2 linked regions of the Homo sapiens genome follow. The protein of the gene in region 2 purifies or fractionates together with the protein of the main gene of each other region. This does not show direct contact. Each region holds a gene or a part of one and is shown on either strand. Other genes may lie near its edges.

The links. The genes of interacting proteins can lie anywhere in the genome.
Region 1: the proteins of UNC5B (region 2) and NEO1 purify together in Homo sapiens (co-immunoprecipitation; one study listed by IntAct). This does not show direct contact.

Annotation. Positions count from the first base shown.
Region 1 is NC_000015.10:73,286,463-73,289,962, reverse strand, and holds part of NEO1 (neogenin isoform 1 precursor), read right to left. Parts: intron 1,651-3,500; coding exon 1,412-1,650; intron 818-1,411; coding exon 725-817; intron 1-724. UniProt on the Homo sapiens protein: Multi-functional cell surface receptor regulating cell adhesion in many diverse developmental processes, including neural tube and mammary gland formation, myogenesis and angiogenesis.
Region 2 is NC_000010.11:71,292,570-71,296,069, reverse strand, and holds part of UNC5B (netrin receptor UNC5B isoform 1 precursor), read right to left. Parts: intron 2,666-3,500; coding exon 2,497-2,665; intron 2,371-2,496; coding exon 2,137-2,370; intron 260-2,136; coding exon 110-259; intron 1-109. UniProt on the Homo sapiens protein: Receptor for netrin required for axon guidance. Mediates axon repulsion of neuronal growth cones in the developing nervous system upon ligand binding.

The sequences.
Region 1 (3,500 bases), on a different chromosome or scaffold from region 2:
TTTTATTTTTTTTGAGACAGAGTCTCACTCTGTCACCCAGGCTGGAGTGCAACAGCACGATTTTGGCTCACTGCAACCTCTGCTTCCCAGGTTCAAGTGATTCTCATGCCTCAGCCACCTGAGTAGCTGGGATTATAGACATGTACCACCATACCTGGCTAATTTTTAATTTTATTTTTTTTGGTAGAGATGGGGTCCCACTACATTGCCCAGGCTGGTCTAGAACTCCTGGCCTCCAGCAATCCTCCCACTTTGGTCTCCCAAAACTCTAGGATTATAGGTGTGGGCCATCTTGCTTGGCCTTCAAATCTATTAATTAAAAAAATAAATTTCACAGGTGCTCATCAGCACTGGTGTCAGGCAGCGTAATGAAAACTTGTAACATCAGACCATCCTTAGCTCTAGTCTGGAGGAGGGAAGCTTTCCCATCTCTCCCATAGAGATATGATGCACTTTTAGGGAGACTAGTTACTCCCCTATTCCTGGGAATCTGGAGACATTGGCTTTTCAGCTTATTTACCATAAACATAACGACGCTAGCCTCAAGAATAATGTTTGTTGCAAAATATGGCAAGTGTTTGGTACTTCCTCCTTCAAGGTGTCAAAGCTTTGGTAGATTATCTTTGTGTTAGAATCAAGTGAAGTCAAAAAGATCATTCATAGTTGTTCCCCTACATGACTGAACAGATTGGTAGCACTGAGGAAAAGAGATGCTTCTACTTACGCTGGGGTGGCTGGGAGTCAAAGGGCATCATCATTTTTGGTCTCATTCCTCGCCTTCCAGCCAGTGTAGACATGCTGTCCTCTGACTCATGCCCTAGATGTTAAACGTGGAGGTTAGTTACCAGCATGTGCCCTATGCCACTGAGCAGCCTCAACAGTGAAACATTTCTAGTAGGGGATTCAGAATTCACAAACAGCATAATGGGGACAAGACATTTCTGTAAGAAGTGAAATAAAGAGGAAAATGATCATTAGAGCATTACAAGAGTTCCTGCTGAATCAATGTGGATGTCACAATGCTGCCCACCATACTTCACAGGGTGTCTATAAGAGCCTCCAGACCAAGAATGTTCTGAATACCACAATGCAAGCTGGAAGCCAGCTGAAGACACAGAATGAAATGCACAGACATGGGCTAGCTAGCCTCAAATCCTTGAATATCACGCTGCTGAAGCCTGATGAGAGACCTAAAAGATCTGCAAGATTGTCTCGTATGGCTACAGAATCTCTCTCCCATAAGAAGCTAGGTATTCTTCATCATATGTTCCCAAATCTTATCATACACATTTCTCTAAATCTGATCTCATATAGGAATTGCCAAATGAAGGCAAACTCAGGGAAAAAAAAAAAGATTTAAATGAAAATAGTTTCCTAACATTTGAGAAAAAACCTGCACTTAAAATGGTACCTCTGTATGAATTTCGCCTTTGATGGATATTGCTGTCCATGGAGTTGTCAACTGGTGTGATATCTTGAGAGTTGCGAGGAATTGGAGTATCAGTCATGATGGGGTTTGGGTCTGGAGACTTATCAATGGGTTTCAGCTCCAGTCTCTCATGATGGATCCAGAGATCTGGAGGTTTCACATCTTTGGAATTCCCTTTGTACTTATGAGAGCCATTCACTGATTTGCAGGCAGCTCGTTTCCTAGGCACGAAGTTCAGAGGAGCTTTTAAAAAGTAACTCATTTGAACGTATTTGTCAAAAGGCTTGAGTGATTAAAACTTCCTTTCTGAGAGATGTTTCAAGCAAAAAAAGCAAAAACTAAAAACATACCTCCTGCCCCCAACAACAACAACAACAACAACAAGTTTGCTCCTGGGGAGAGTAAATGTATCTCTATTTTGTCCACACATATTTAGAGATACTTACCAGGGTCTTTATGTTTGAATCCTGCCTTGTGACTACTTTTTTTGACTGTTAAAAGATTAAGATAGCATTTTTCATTATATAATCTCATAACCAGAAGGTTCATCCACAAGTTTCTAATTAGAGCAATGTAGAAACATAACAATGGAGTAGAGGGAAAGTCTGTGGCTTATAAAGGAGGGAGGCAAAAACTTTTTTTGTTTTTTTTTTTTGAGATGGAGTTTTGCTCGTCGCCCAAGCTACAGTGTAATGGCGAGATATCGGCTCATTGCAACCTGGCCTCCTGGGTTCAAGAGATTCTCCTGCCTCAGCTTCCTGAGTAGCTGGGATTACAGGCGTCCACCACCACACCCAGCTAATTTTTGTGTTTTTAGTAGAGACAGGGTTTCACCATGTTGGCCAGGCTGTTCTCGAATTCCTGAACTCAGGTGATCTGCCGCCTTGGCCTCCCAAAGTGCTGGGATTACAGGCGTGAGCCACTGTACCTGGCCGGAACAACTTCGAAGACTGCCAAACTAGGACTACCAACTAGGTGGAGTCAAGAATGGGGACAACAATGTCTACTTCTCTGTGTTTTAGCTTCTCCATTCACTCTCTTACTTACCCCTAATGAGGACATACTGGGTACCCAGTATATGCCAGACCCTGTGCTAGACTGCTGTGCCCTCAGAATTTTTGATAAAGTGAGGAATACAGACGTTGAACTATTATTTTAAAATGTTCTGAGCTTACTGAAATGTCAAGTGTTAGAGTAACTTCTTAACAGTTGGACTTAAGCTGAACAGGAAAAACCTAGAGGAGGAAGTGACATTTAAGCTAAGACCTAAAGGGAACAGAAAGTGCATTCCAGGTGGTGAAATCAGCTTATGTCAAAACCCTAAAGCAGAGTGCAATGCCCTGGTGGTATATTAGAAGGATTTTAAGAAATCCTGAGTGGTGGGGACATAGTGAACCCTGCAGAGAATGATGTGAAATAATACTAGAAAGGTAGTCAGGGACCAGATCATAAAGAGCTTTTAGGGCAATGCTAAGAGTGTGAACTTCCCTTTGTGAGTAATGAGAAACCATTAAATGGTTTTAAGCAAGAGAGTAAGGAGAACACTTTTGAGTTAAAACTTTATACCAGCTGTGATGTGAAGAATAGCTCTGTGGGGTTGGGGATAGAAGAGGAGACCAGCTAGGATGCTACTGCAATCTCAGCCATAACTGATGGCATGGGACAGTGGGAGTAGAGGCAAGAGGCAGATTTGAAAGTTATTCAGGAGGCAGACATGACAGGTCTTGGTAAATAAATGGATGTAGGGTGAGGTGGGAGTAAAGAAGAAAGAGGAGTACAGGATGATGCTAAGGTTTCTGATTTAAGCCACTTAATATTGGGAATAAAGGAGCAGAAGCGGGTTTGCCTGAAAAGATGATGAATTCTGCTCTGGACATGCTGAATTTGAAATGTCTCTGAGACATTCAAGAGGAAATGTAGAAGAGGCAACTGTGTGTGCAAGTCTGATACTCAGAGGAGGGAGGCCTTGGCTGGAGACAGAAATACAAAAGTAGCTGGAATGCTGAAGCCACGGGAGCAGATGAGATCACTTGGGGAGAACACAGAAGGAGAAGAGAGTAAGTCCAGGCCC
Region 2 (3,500 bases):
GAGGGGTAAGGCCACAGGACAGAGCTAGGAGGCAGGGCCCGGGAGGGAGCTGGGCTTCCCGGGCAGCCCTTAAGTGGTGCCCCTCCCCATCCATCAGCCCAGCCCTCACCTGGTATTTGGCCAGCAGCTTGCTCCTCCAATGGGCATGGGGGAGGTCATGGAGGGAGAGGCGCAGGTTGTGGTAACTGTCCTTGAACATTAGCGGTTTCGGCTCCTCCACCAAGTATCCGCCCAGAGTCCGCTCCAGCTCCAGCACCTCCTGTGGGCCAGGGGCATGGGGAAGGGGAACCCATCACACCTGGCCAATGGGCCTCTTCTGTGGCACTGTGCGGGGCAGGGGGCAGGGGCCCATCTGAGTGCATGGCTGGGCATTTGCAAGAGCTCACAGAGGGCTTATGGTGTGAGAAGATGAATAGATGACGGATGGATAGACAGACAGTGGGAAAGATGACTAGATGAATGAATCTATAGATGACCGTATGGCTAGAGGGACTAATAAATGGACAGATGGATGGATAAACGGATTGATGGCTAGAAAGACAGACAGATGAATATACAGATGGATATACAAGGATGGGTATATGAATAGAAAGATGGAAGAAAAGATAAATGAATGGATAGACGAGCAATGACTGGGTAAACAGATGGGCTGCTGACTGAATGGGTATATGGTCAGATGAACAGAAAGACAGATGGATGGATGAACAGATGGACAGATGGATGGATGGAGGGTTGAATAAACAAAGAATGCCATCAGGCCCAAACCTGGTAACTTCTCTCTTGATTTCTATACCACTCTCTGGCCAAAGCTGGCCATTAGCCAACGCCCCAGGACCAAGAGATCCAGCTGCAGGAGCACTTCCCAGGCACCTTGCACCCATCACAGGGCCACTGGCATCTCAAGCCAGGGTCCTCCCAGCAGGGGACACTCCTTCTCCCATGGGCCTTTCACCTATGTTGTCTGCAGTGTGGGCTTTGGGACAAGTCCCATGAGCCTGGGAGATGAAGGAGCTGGACGGGGCCAGGGAGCAGGAACAGAAAGTGCATGGAGCCATGGGAAAGGACCATGAGGCGCTGAGGAGGGCAGATGGGAGGAGGGAGGGGAAGGGGCTCACACACGGCCAAGTGTCTGTATGCTTCCAGGGTTACATCAGGATGAGCCTGAGCTCCTGAGAATGGGAGGAGAACTTGGGGGAATGCACAAGGGCTCTGAGGCTGGCAGGGGACAGTGGTGCTAACACGGGGCTCCATACCTGCCATCATCAGGCTCTAGGTACTAAAAGACCCTTCCCTCCCCTTCCCTCCCTCCTGTCCCAACCACCCCTCATCTGCATGACCCTTCCTTCACTTGGGGCACCGCTCTCCATCCTTCTGCATATGCTAGGAGCCTGGCTGTCAGCCTTAACTTCCCTCTCCCACTGCCCATCCCATCAGTCACCGGTTCTGTCCATTTGACTGAGCACACGCAGCATCCAGCCCCGCCTCTCCTGGCTGCTGTCACTCCCTGTGGCCCAGGGTCCAACCCCAGCTTCCCAACAGGCCTCTCCACCTCTCATCTACCCACCCAAGTATAGCCACAGGGGCTTTCTAAAGAGCACCTGTGAACAGGTGTCTACCAGGTCCATTCCCCTTCCTGCCGGATGGATTCCAAATTCCTTGGCAAGGGGCCCTGAGGCTTCTGGGAAGCTGAGCCCTGCCCATCTCGCCCGCCCTCACATTCACACATTCCCTATGCCTTTTAGTTGGTCATGCTGAAACGCTTATGAAACGCAGTCATTTCTGTCGGTCTGGAATGCCCTTCACTCCTTTCTGCTGAAACTCCTACATGTCAGCCTTCTCAGAGTCCCTCCCTACCAGCCCAAGCCCCTCCCAGTCTGATGCTCCCTCAGTCCTGGGGCAGACCCCATCAGAGCCTTCAGGGATCCCTGGTCTGCCTCCCACCTCTAACCTGGATCTTGGTGAGGCAGGCCCTGTGCCCAAGGCTGTTTCAGTGTGTGAGGGTCGCAAGCGGGACCTAATAATGCTGGTGGCGGGGAGGGGTTCCTGGGAGGACCCATGAGCCTGGGGTGGGGGATTCTGGCAGGGATCATGCAGCTGGCCGGCCAGGGCTGTGTGGGCACCTGCAGCTGGCCCTACCTTCAGTGCTACAGGCGTGTCCTCCAGGCAGTAGACCCGGAGGCTGTACTCCAGGGAGGTGCAGAGGGCGGGGGCGAAGACGGCCAGCTGGAGCCGCTTGACTGCTGAGCGGGAATAGGACTCGCCCGTGAACACGTAGGTGCCCAGCTGGTCCAGCAGGATGTGACAGGCCCTGGGCTCCAGCTGGCAGTAGCAGGGTGTGTTCAGGGTCTCCTCATCCAGGGTCACCACCTCCTGTAGGGGACAGCAAGGGTGGGGTAGTGGTCACAGTTATTCAGGCTGGGCCAGAGGAAAAGGGCTTTCTTTTGCCTCCCTGGGCAGGTTGGGAGAGCTGGGCCAGCCTTCACCGTGGCTCCTCACCTCCCAGTGGCCCTGGTGGGCCTGGGTCTTGAGCTGAAAGATCCAGTCACGGGCACTGACTTCGGCACAGTGGGGCATGGTGAGGATGACGGGGCGGCACAGCAGGAGGCCTGTGGGTCCACAGGTCACCGAGGGGCTCAATACTGTCTGGGTCCCTTCTGAAAGCGGGCTGGAGGAGGACACAGGGTAGGAGAGAGGCAGTGAAGAGCTCGGCAAAGGTGCAGGCTCCTGCTGGGCTCCCAAGTCTGCCCAGGGCCCGGGAGGTGGAGGGCAGCTCTTTGCCACTCAGGGCTCTGCATTCCCAGAGGTCATGGGGGCAAAGGAGGCAAAGAAAATGGCATGAACCTTGAGGTTGTTTCCAGATTTTTGCTATTCCACTGCAACATTATCATAGCTCAAAATTCCTGGCTTATATTTTCCAAGGTTGTGTAATCTTGGAAGGTTTTCAATAGGTCACGCTAAAGTGCCCTCCAGGGAGCTGGTTCCAATCTATACTCCCGGCCACGTGCCACAGAAGGCCATGTTCCCACCCCCTTGCCAGCAAGAGGGTATTATCATTTGGGAAAAGGTCCTTGCAAATTCCTTAATAATAATAATTTAAAAATCCCAGTATACCTTGTGGTGGTTTTCATTAGTTTTCTCTGCAAATTAGACTAAACATTTTCTCATAACCTACTGGCCAGTGTGTTTGTGTGAGACAGTGTGTGTGAATCACGTGTTCATATCCTTTGCCCATTTTCACAGTGAGATGTTTACTTTTTCTTATTGATCTACAAAATCTCTTTACATAGTAAGGATATTCAGCCCTTTGTCACACTTGTAGCCAGCTTGTCAACCGCCTTTGAGTTTTACAATTTACGGTGTTGGTTCTGCAAGTTTTCAATATGGACACAGTAAGATTAATACTTTCCTTGGAGGACTGTTTGGTCTTGGCATCAGGCTTAGAAGGGGAGCCACGTGTGGGCAGGCAGCAAGGGATGGGAGGAAGAAAAAGGAGCAGCGGC